Linked DNA regions of Homo sapiens: region 1 is reported to be linked to region 2. The links are microRNA targets in miRTarBase. Many come from high-throughput screens and were not tested one by one. Region 2 holds a microRNA gene; the other region holds the end of a gene's coding sequence.
What was found. The annotated mature microRNA hsa-miR-2110 reads UUGGGGAAACGGCCGCUGAGUG and lies in region 2 at 2,167-2,188, shown strand. An mRNA with a match to its seed (bases 2 to 7 or 8) in the 3' UTR can be bound and repressed. Matches are read on the target gene's strand: a 7mer-m8 pairs with bases 2 to 8, a 7mer-A1 pairs with bases 2 to 7 and ends in A, and an 8mer does both.

Region 1: miRTarBase lists HLX as a target of hsa-miR-2110. The part of its 3' UTR that is shown has no 7-base or 8-base seed match.

Annotation. Positions count from the first base shown.
Region 1 is chr1:220,884,031-220,889,404 of GRCh38, forward strand. HLX (H2.0 like homeobox) reads left to right here. Exons shown (of 4, transcript NM_021958.4): 4 at 165-1,029. The coding sequence ends at 674. Among named protein-coding and RNA genes, the nearest start is that of HLX-AS1, 6.6 kb to the left of the region's middle.
Region 2 is chr10:114,170,965-114,176,338 of GRCh38, reverse strand. It overlaps MIR2110 (microRNA 2110), which reads left to right and starts at 2,160; the gene lies at 2,160-2,234. CCDC186 (coiled-coil domain containing 186) reads left to right here and starts at 2,136. Exons shown (of 16, transcript NM_018017.4): 1 at 2,136-2,324. It also overlaps a transcript of TDRD1 not described here. RefSeq lists a silencer at 1,801-2,070 and enhancers at 2,131-2,330, 1,926-2,454.

The DNA of each region.
Region 1 (5,374 bases), not on the chromosome of region 2:
TTGGCTCCTGCGCCTACCACAGTGTCTGGTCCTTGGTAGAGTCGCCAAGTAAGCGTTGCTTTTTCACTCAGGGAGGTGGCTTGAGGGTGCACGCGAGTCGGATAGGAGCAAACCTGGGTCTCATCTCGGTGTCTCTTCTTGTCTCCCGGTGTGGCGCGGCGCAGGTGAAGGTGTGGTTCCAGAACCGGCGGATGAAGTGGCGGCACTCCAAGGAGGCCCAGGCCCAAAAGGACAAGGACAAGGAGGCTGGCGAGAAGCCATCAGGTGGAGCCCCGGCTGCGGATGGCGAGCAGGACGAGAGGAGCCCCAGCCGTTCTGAAGGCGAGGCTGAGAGCGAGAGCAGCGACTCCGAGTCCCTGGACATGGCCCCCAGCGACACGGAGCGGACTGAGGGGAGTGAGCGTTCTCTGCACCAAACAACAGTTATTAAGGCCCCGGTCACTGGCGCCCTCATTACCGCCAGCAGTGCTGGGAGTGGTGGGAGCAGCGGCGGCGGCGGCAATAGTTTCAGCTTCAGCAGCGCCAGCAGTCTTAGTAGCAGCAGCACCAGTGCGGGTTGCGCCAGCAGCCTTGGCGGCGGCGGCGCCTCGGAGCTTCTCCCTGCAACACAGCCCACAGCCAGCAGCGCTCCCAAAAGCCCCGAGCCAGCCCAAGGCGCGCTTGGCTGCTTATAGACTGTACTAGGGCGGAGGGGATCCGGGCCTTGCGTGCAGCCTCCCAACCATGGGCTGGGTTTTGTGCTTACTGTATGTTGGCGACTTGGTAGGGCAGGAGACGCAGCGTGGAGCCTACCTCCCGACATTCACGCTTCGCCCCACGCTGCTCCGACTGGCTGCAGCGGACACTGCCCAAAGCAGAGGGGAGTCTCAGTGTCCTGCTAGCCAGCCGAACACTTCTCTCCGGAAGCAGGCTGGTTCGACTGTGAGGTGTTTGACTAAACTGTTTCTCTGACTCGCCCCAGAGGTCGTGGCTCAAAGGCACTTAGGACGCCTTAAATTTGTAAATAAAATGTTTACTACGGTTTGTAAAGGCCGCTTGGCTTTGCTGGGGGTTGTTAAGGCCAGAGATCTACAACCGGACCTTAGTCCCGGGGACACTGTAGAATGCAGCAGCTGAAGGTGGTGGGGCTGGAGTTTCAGGGGAAGTGGCTCAACCTCAGAGCCATCTTGTTACAGACATCAGAGATGGGCGTCTGGGTTTAGAGGCTTCTAATTAAGAGATTTCTAGCGCCAACTGCCACTGAAAGTGCCCTCTGAGACCCTGAGTAGCCTGAGAGTGGAGCAGGCCATAGAAACTGTTAGGCCAGTGCAACAGATGGTTTCCCCATTCACAGTATGGACGAAATGAGTTCCTAGAGTACTCAGAGTTGGAATGGGGAAGGCAGTGATGCCAGGCGGGGTCAATCTAGGCACAGCTGTAATCACTATGTGGACGCGAAGCGCGGGCCCAGAGCCCTGCACAAACTTTTCCTTGTTCCGGGATGGGGTAGAGGACAGGTTTGCAATGTTGCTGAGGAAAGGACAGACATGACACAGTGGTTAGAGCTGGAAGCTTGGGTCTTAGAGTGCCAGGGCCCTGGTTGTAAACATGCCAAACAAAGAGGTGACTTCTTCAAGGTGAAGCAGAGGCACAGCCCAGATCAGAACTTGGACTTCCTGGCCTACATGTGGCCACGGATAGAACTATGAAGTTGCATCCTCCATTCCCTCATCCACGCAAAAATTTTCCTTTGCAATTTGGCCACTGGAGGTGCCTAGATGAGCTCTTTCTCCCCAAAGCTGCTGAGAGTCGTGAGGCAGTTTCCCCATCCCACTGCAGCTGGAAAATATGTAGTAAACCTTGACACTGCTACTAGGATGGGCAATTCAAAGATTTTTTGTTTGTTTATTTCTTTTAAAGGTGAAAAGTTAAACCTCTCTCCAGGACCTGTCCTCCTGCTTGTAACTGTGAAATGTCTGGAGTTGCTAAAAGCTCTTTGGGGGGATTTTATAGCAAATAGATTTCTTTGGGAAATCCTGATCAGTCTCAGTGCCAATCTCTTCGGCACTGAGCAAGTGAAGGACACAAGGTCTCTGGCAGACCCAGCATCCAGGCGGGGTGGCCAGTTCTCAGAATGAGTTGAGGAGAGGTGCTGAAGTCAGAGAGCCTAGGACACACCTCAGTCCCTTGGCCAGAGTGGGAAAGTTCTCAGCAGTCCTCTGTCTTGCTTATCTCCTCCACTTTTAGACATTCCCCTGGAGCTCATTCCAGGATCTCTGTTCTCGACTTTTCCATCCAGGGGTGAAGTAGAGGCAGCAGATTGAGCCTTCTTACACTTGCATAGCCAGATACAAGATACAGATAACAAGTCCCAAAGCCAACACATGGATGCAAAGATGATCATTTCCTGACCCAGCCAACCCCCTAAGTCCCCAAATCGAGATGATTCAAGAGCAGTGAGAATGGAGTAGGGGCAGAATGATCAGAGATGTACAATTTAGTCAAGAGAAAAGAAAGAGCATACCACAAGGGACCCCATCTTCAATAGGAACATGAACTAGCTGTTATCCCTAATTGTGTCACAAGAGTTTCCAGGCCAGGGCAGCCTCCCCACCTGGCCTGGGTGCGGGCCAGGGCTGGGATAGTTCTTCAAGCCTTCTGTAGGCTCTGCTGCCAAACTTCAGGATTCCCTCTGTACCTCAGTTTTGTCTGCATTATCGATATCAATTTCCCCTGACCCCACATATCGAAATTCTGGAAGCAGGATATCCCAAGCACATCGAATTTTGAGGTGCTTCAATCCAGCTCTGGCGTTAAGGAGAATAACGCGTCGGCACGCACACTTAGCTGAGGAGCGGAGTCTAGGGAAGAAAGGTGGGGAGGATGCTTTATACAAACCGCACTTTCCCCTGCTCCTCACCTGGCCCTGGAGGTTTCCGCTACCGCCAAACCCAGACCGTAGGTCCACGCCCTGGCCCCGGGGCTTTGAACGTGAAGAAAATCATCATCGGGGAATGTCATGATGTGATTTCAGGTAGAATTCTGCCTTATTTAGGCCACCTTTCGCCAGGCCAGGGGGCACGGCAGAGCTGGGGGGCTCAGGGATGAAGTGAGCCGGGGGGGTGAGCGCCTGAGGGCGGGAGTCAGAAGGACGAATACCACCCTAGTGCTCGCAGGAGGCGCCCCTGCTTCCGCCACCCCCACCCCCAGTTCCTAGTCAGTTATCACCTGAAGTTCTTGCGGGGCTTTACCCTAGCAGTGGAGTTCTTCCACATTTCATCAGAATCGGAATATCACAAGCCCCGGAAAAGTTACAGTTCATCTGGAAGAAGGGTAGCCACAGGTGGCCAGGAGGAAAGGCTAAAATTTGGCCGGATAGTCCCATCCCAGGGCTGCTCTCTCGACCCCGGGTACTGGGGTCTTCTTGGCAGCGCAAAATGCTAGCAAAGGCGGCCAAGCAGCTCGAAATTCTTCAACCAAGACCTAGAGTTTTCAGACCCGGAAGAGAAGGCCCAGCGCGGACCGTGCGGGGCGCTAGAACCGCTCAGGGTTGAGGCTTGGAGCAGGAGAGCGCGCGGGCCCCGGAGCAGAGCAGAGCAGAGCAGAACAGAGCCGCGGCCCCCGCCCCTCCTGCACACAACCCGAGACTCCAGCCAGCGATTGCTCTTTGAGCAAAGCTTTGCCTAGCCCGCTGAAGTCCCCGCTGCGCGGAGCCCTCCGAAAAAGGCTACCAAGGTGCACAGAGGCTCACAGAGGGATGGTGACCACGGTGCGTTTCCTTTGGGGCGGGGGTAGGGACTCAATACCCATCACCCATCCCCTCCAACGTGGACGCACACAGACCTGCAGATTCATATAGACACACGAGAGACAGGCAGTATACTGGCTATTTCAGCACTTTGCGGGTAAAACCACGCTAATAAATTTCCCCATTCTCCTCCATATGGCAAAGCAGAGAGGAGCCTCTGCCGCCTTATTCAGCCTGTGTGGGTGGGTAGGGCGCTTGTTTCCACAGAGAATTTGCCTAGCGCCAAGTTCCGCGGACTAAACCACTGAAGGCTGGCGCCGCGTTTCTCTCCCTTTTGCCCGCTTCAGTCGAGAGTGGGCATAGACATCCTTGCGAGCAGTGTGTCTCCCTCGCCTTCCTGTGCCCACCCCCCCGCCCGAGGCCAAAGTCGTCAGCCCCCGGGGCAGGTCCAGGCGAGGTCCTGCTTCCAAGGGAGGCTCAGGTCATTATACCAGCCAGGGAGATTTCCCGCTTCTCTCCCTCTACTCCCTGCAAAGAGTCGTGTGGATTGTAGGCGGGCTCAGACTCTGCTTGCCACAAATCCCTCTGACATCCTTTGCACCTCAGAGGCAACCATAAAGGAACTCCAGTCACTCTGGGATCTTTTCTCTGGCTGCCCTCTCTACCCAGGATCTGGAGTTTGATGTTGGCAGGGGATGAACTAGGTTGTGGCCAGCGCAGGGCAGGCACAGTAAGAGCGCCTAGGCTTCTTTTCAAGGTGTCAGAAGCCGAAGAAACAGGAGAGTGAAACCTGGGTTCTCCTGTCTGGGAAGGCAACCGCCAACGAAAGCTTCGGAGTCAGGAGAGGGGTGTGGTAGAAACCAGGGCTTGTAGCAGTGGATTTTCTGCGGGCACCTGGACTTGACTTGATCTGTTGAGCTTTAACCTGTTGAGCTTTAATCTGTTTCCACAGATCTGAACCCACCTCTGCTCAAGCCCACGCCTACCTGAGACTCTCAGTGGGCTGGATGGAGCACGAAACGGGGGAAGAGAAGTCAGAGGCTGAGGTTGATGCAGTCTCCCATCGTTTTCAGGCATCCTAGTCCCCTCTCCGGCTTCTTCCTCCCTTAAGAAGAAAAAGTAGGCAAGCTCAGCCCTCCCCCACGTGATGTAGTGACACCGCTTTAAAGATGACCAAGAGGACCCTAAACATGCTGGGACATCACATTCTCCTTCTTTAGCCTTGTGAGTTGGAAAGGACTGATTGCACACTCCAATGTATTTGTGAAGATGCGAGTTTTAAGGAGGATTTTAACTACAGGTATTTGGGCTAGGGAAGATTTTTTAAAATCCGAAATTTTGATTTAACTCATGCACTCATCTAGCTCACAGCCTCCATTTTTGAGGTCATGATGAGATTGGCTGGCGTCCCAAAGACAAACTAGTTGGCTTTCTCTGAAGCTTCCCTTCACACACTGGGATATTACAACCCACAGTGCCTACCCTCTGCCAGCCACTCTTGGGGAATCCAGACTGCTTACACAGGGTGGGGAGCACTTTCTAAGATTCCCTTCAACTCAGGTTCTAACAGAGCAGCAGCCTCCACGAGGATCCCTGGGCCCTGAGGACAGGTGAGCTTAGAGAACCCCTGGCCCTTTAATCCCTTCC
Region 2 (5,374 bases):
TCTCTTGCAATTTATTTATTACAGTAACTGCAGGGTTTTTTTTTTTTTCCATTCAATTTTGTTGATTGCATCCCCCGGCAGGAATACTTCACAGGTGGTGTTGTGCTTCTCTATTGTAGCATTTCAGAAAATACATAGTATGTAGTTGTTTCACTTTGGAGGATATTAAGATTGATCTAGTAGGTTCAAGTGGTGCCAGCCCCATCCATCCATTACAATACGAAGCTTCCTATCAGTTTTTCATCTAATGGTTCTAGATTCACAGATGACCATTACCTAGATCCATTATTTCATCAGGGTTTGCAAAATGGTGATCATCTATCTTTCTTTCTGCAATTATTACATGGAGTTCTACAGAGAAGAGCTTCCCCACATTGACTATTTGATTGACATTCAGTTTGCAACAGGAAAGGTAGGATGAATGCTTGATTCTTTATCAGTTCTCAGATTGTAATGACTTGTTGGCATCTTTCCAAGAGGGTCAATGACATTAAAAAAAATAAATGCACTCACTGATTTTTTTACATAGTGCGTCTCAACCAGTTGCTGTTATTATTTTTGAATGCTAAATTTGTCCTGTTTGAGAAGTTGGGGCATCTTTGAACTGCCTTCTGAGTCTTTTGGGTACAGTTCATGTTATCTTTGCTTTTCTTCCTTGCTTTCTGCTACAAGCAATATGTCCTAGGCTATCTTGCATATTTCTTGCCCCTACTGGGAATCAGCACTTAACCTCCAAGAGAAGCCAAGGTAACTTTTTTTGGGCAATGCTCTTTAGAGATCACAATCTGGGGAATAGGAGTGTGCAATGGGTTGGTCACTGTTCTAAGAGTTTTCAGTGGACACACCTTTTTTTTCACGAAAAAAATGTACCATGAGTTAATTCTGATATTTGTAAATTCAAATATAGGATTGCAGAATTTTAATATAATGTCTTTGGTTTATATTTGTATTTCTTTTCTCTTATGGTGAAAAACTTGGTTCACAAAGATATATTTATATACTTTATACTAATTATAAATTCAGAAATATTCAGAAATAGTAATACCTATGTTATTACTGACGAGTACCGAAAACAGCTTAAGGTTTCTTCAGTTTTTTCCCCTTGGATTAATGTCTCCCTAGGAAGGCTTGGTCGATTTATTGTTTTAAAGTCAAATCATTTATTTTCTATGACAAGACACTTTAACTGCAAAATGTGCTTCAGTGTAGTACCTTCATTTAAGGAGGAGTGAGGTGCCATTACACCTCCGTGTGTGTGTTTTGCCAACAGTATCGAAGACGCTTAACAGAACAGTAGTAAGTTTTGCTTTACAAATTCTTACATTGCAGAATCGTCTGCATCAGCTATTTTCATTCATGAGATATGTGTAAGACCTAAACCAAAGAACATCGTTTCCCCGGACTGAGGAGGTTTGCGAAACCTCCAGAGACTGAACTGCTGACCTTCCTTCTCTGGGCCGGGCGAGGCAACTGTACCCAATACACTTTTTGTTGCCATGCTGCGTGCCAGGTTACTCAGCCGGGAGAGGACACTTCCTACCATCAATGCGCTCAGCTTGAAGCCAGAGACGAAGGCACCGACAGTTTATTATTAAACAATGGCAGCAGCGCCACGCTGAAGACACGAACGCGCTGTTATGGAACCCCCAGAGGTCTCCCCCATCGTAGCCTGCTCCAGCCGACTCCGCCCACGTAAGGTGCAAGGTTTCCGCATGAGAGCCGGGAAGCCACAATTTCAAATTCTCTTTTATTGCTTTATGTCCCTGACTCATGCAGGCCAAAGGGTGAGGAGGAGTAATAGCCAACAAGAGCGTCCTGCAGAAAGAAACAGGCTGCGTGGGTCCGGAGGAGCTTGAAAGGAAGAACCCGACCAAAGGGCAGGAGACCCGGCTCTCCAGGTCGCGGAGGCGTGGGTGCCCAGCCAGGCGGAGTGCGGGGCGGGGCCTCTCGGGCCGCAAGGTGGGGCCTCCTGGGCCGGGAGGTGGGAGGTGAGCTCCGCCAGCCCAGCCCACTGCAGACAGGTTACCCAGGACCTCAAGGTGTGCTGCGTCACCCCGCCCGCGCTGCGCTGATTGGTTCCTCCAGGGAGCCCCCGCCCCCTCAGCTGTAACCGGGCCGGCTTCAGTGTCGCCGCCATCTTTGTTGATGTGTCAGCTCCGCAGGGGTTTGGGGAAACGGCCGCTGAGTGAGGCGTCGGCTGTGTTTCTCACCGCGGTCTTTTCCTCCCACTCTTGGCTGGTTGGACCCCGCTATGGAAAAGTTGGCCCCTGAGCCAGAGCTCCAGCAGCCTTGTTAGGGCGTGGCCTGAGGCTTGGATAAGTGGGGTAAGTGTCTGAGGGGTACTCGGGGCACACCGGTGAGTCGCGGTGGCGGTGCGGTGGGGCTGCCAGCCTTCCGCTCCTTCCTGCACGTTCCGTGGCGGGGGCGAGGGCGAGTGCGAGGTGGAGGTCGAGGTCGAGCGGGCTCCCCGCCTGGCTCCTTTGAGGGCGCGGAGGAAGGGGAGGGCTGGGGAACGGGTTTCAAGCCCTTTCCTCTCCCTGCCTTCCTCCTTCGGTTCCGGGACCTTGGAGGTGGCAAAGAGGGGTCAGCGGGGGTCGTGGGGGCTGTGCCTCGAGAGCGTCTGAATTCGAGCCCATTGCCTGGGCTGCGTGTGAACTGCAGCCAAGCCCTACCTGCTCGAGAATCTTTCCTAGACTCAATCGCCTATTTCGTTTTTCGTCTCAAGTTGACTGTATGTGGGTGTTTTATATTTACTGTTGTGAAGACTTGTTACCCTCTTCCAAACACTTCCATTACTGTGATTCTAAGTTCCTTAGAAGTGATTCTTTGGAGTGGTGGATACTGTTCTTTATGTTGTCTTTCAAGGACGTCAAGGCATTTCATAAACCTTGGTTGGTAAGGAAGGGGTTTCAGATTTATGTCTCCATCAGTAATGAAAAATGGCAAAAACAAAACAAAAACCCTTCTACGTGTCCCTAAGTAGCAATCTTGGGAAACAGTGCAGGTGTGAGTATTGCTTAGCTGTTAACAGTTTAACAACTTCACCTAATATTCCCATCTTGATTTTGTTTAGAGGAAAAAGTCCTGGATTTCGAGTCAGAACATCTGGATTAGAATCCTACTTCTTTCACTTGATAATCTTGTTACCTGTGGAAATCAGAAGAGAGAATATAGTAAAAATACGCAGTACAGTCCCAGGTACTTGGCCGTTTTCTCTGCATGTGTGTCATGTTCCTTTGATGCCCAGCTTTTTTTTCTTCCAAAACGATAGGCCGGGTGTTGTCTTCTAAGGTGTTCAGTAAATCAGGGTTTCAAGAGGTGTGCTGGTAGTCATTCAGAAGAAATTAATCTGCTATTATCTATTTAGGTATGCTAGTTGTGGGTGTGGCTTTCCCAACTATCAAGTACACCTTAATATTTACCGAGTGTTCATCTCGTGGGAAGGATTCAGGTTCAAGAGAGATTGATAGTGAAACTGAACTATCTCTGTGTGTAATGTACACTGTTCCCTGTGTAACTTCAATTCTTTATCCAACATTACACAAATAAAAAACAGTAATGATTGGCTAGGTTCATTTTTCTCTTTTATTTCTGGTCTTTTCATGTTATTTTTAATGCAGTGAAGATATTAGATCACGAATCTTGCAGTATTAAGAATTAAAACTTTTTACAGCATAATAGGCAAACGTATGATTACTGAAGATTCTCCCTGGAAATGCATGGATTGTGTTTGTTTTTTAAAGGCCCTGTTAAATTCAGAATAACTGCATATAAACTTAAGGTTTCTTTAAACAGTGGAGATTCCATAGTGTGTCATTGGCTTTTGAGTCCTATTTATTGCTAACGGAAAGGGTTGGCTGGTGTGTATCACAGTGACCACTCTAACCTTTTAGTTCTTTCACCCATAAAGTAGAGTTGTCCTTTAATGCTATGCAGTGACAGCATAGCTAATGATTGCTTAGTATGTTCAGTTTAGAAACATCTATTTGCAGCTTTATGCTGACATCACAGAGTGAAGATAAAAGCATTGCAGTATACTGACTCCAGGAAGAGACAGTAGGTTGAAGCACAAAGCAGCTTTATTTGGAGATTTAGAAAATAATCTTTCCCTTTGAAGAAGGACTGGTAATCTGCACTAGTTTCTCAAATTCATGCAACAGTTTCGTGTTAAAGTAAGAATCCTTACCCTGAAATTTTTTTTCTTTTAGTAAAACTTAGGTTTTTCTTTTATCTCTACCTTAAAATAACTAAAGCTGGTTTTTCAATTTCTCATAAACATATCACTGAGTTTACAGTATTGCAAATGTTATACTTAGTATTCATTTTAGGGGCAGCAGTGAGATCATAGATAATTTAATCTATTGTTTCAAACTGCTTTGAACTTTCTTAGCTACTGAGATTTAAAAAATGTATTTGGGCTAAAAAGTAAGAAAAAGGAAAAATACTGAGATGAAGGGACAGTAGACACAAAGTGGAAATCAGCACCAGCATAGTTTTGATTGGATTGTGAGTGTATTTCTTATTAACATTTGTCTATCATTAAGACACTTGAACTGATAATTGTGGGATTATGTAGACTATGTAATGTCTACCGCACTTACTACATAATCCCACGGTAGACTATCAGTTCATGTTTTTAATAAAGTAGAGCATACCAAATTAACCAACTCTGGCCAAAGGTGTCTTCAAAATTTAAACATTAACCCAAACTTTTTAATGTAATGCAGGCTTATAACTTGAAAAAAAATTTTTTTTAAAGATACTAGGCTTCATTTTGTTTAGTTTTTTGAGACAAGATCTCAATCTGTCACCCAGGCTGGAGTATAGTGGTATGATCATAATTCACTGTAGCCTTGAACTCCTGGTCTCAAGCAATCCTCCTGCCTTAGCCTCCTGAGTAGCTAGGACAACAGGCACAGGCCACCATACTAATCTTTTTAATTAAAAATTATATATTATTATTTTTTATAGACCAGGTCTTGCTATGTTTCCCAGGCTGTTCTCTTAATTCCTGGCCTCATTTGATCCTCCCATCTAGGCCTCCCAAAGTGCTGGGATTACAGGTGTGAGCCACCTGTAAAGGAAGGCCTGAGAGCCTTCCTTTTTGAAAAAGGAACTATAGGTCAGATTTTTTTTTACCTACTTTATTCCTTTTCAGATTTGGAGGAAAATTAGCTGATAATACTTTTCATGTTTTCTTAGACTCATTAAAGTGCAAGTGCAATCTTCAAATTAGATTTCTGTATTAGTAGGAAGTCATTTCTGATAACTTTCTGCTTTAGTATTTTAAAGTATTTATAGGAGACATGTAAAATTACCGAGCTGATATGACATATATGGTGTAACTTGATAAGGTGAACTATGATGTGGCCAC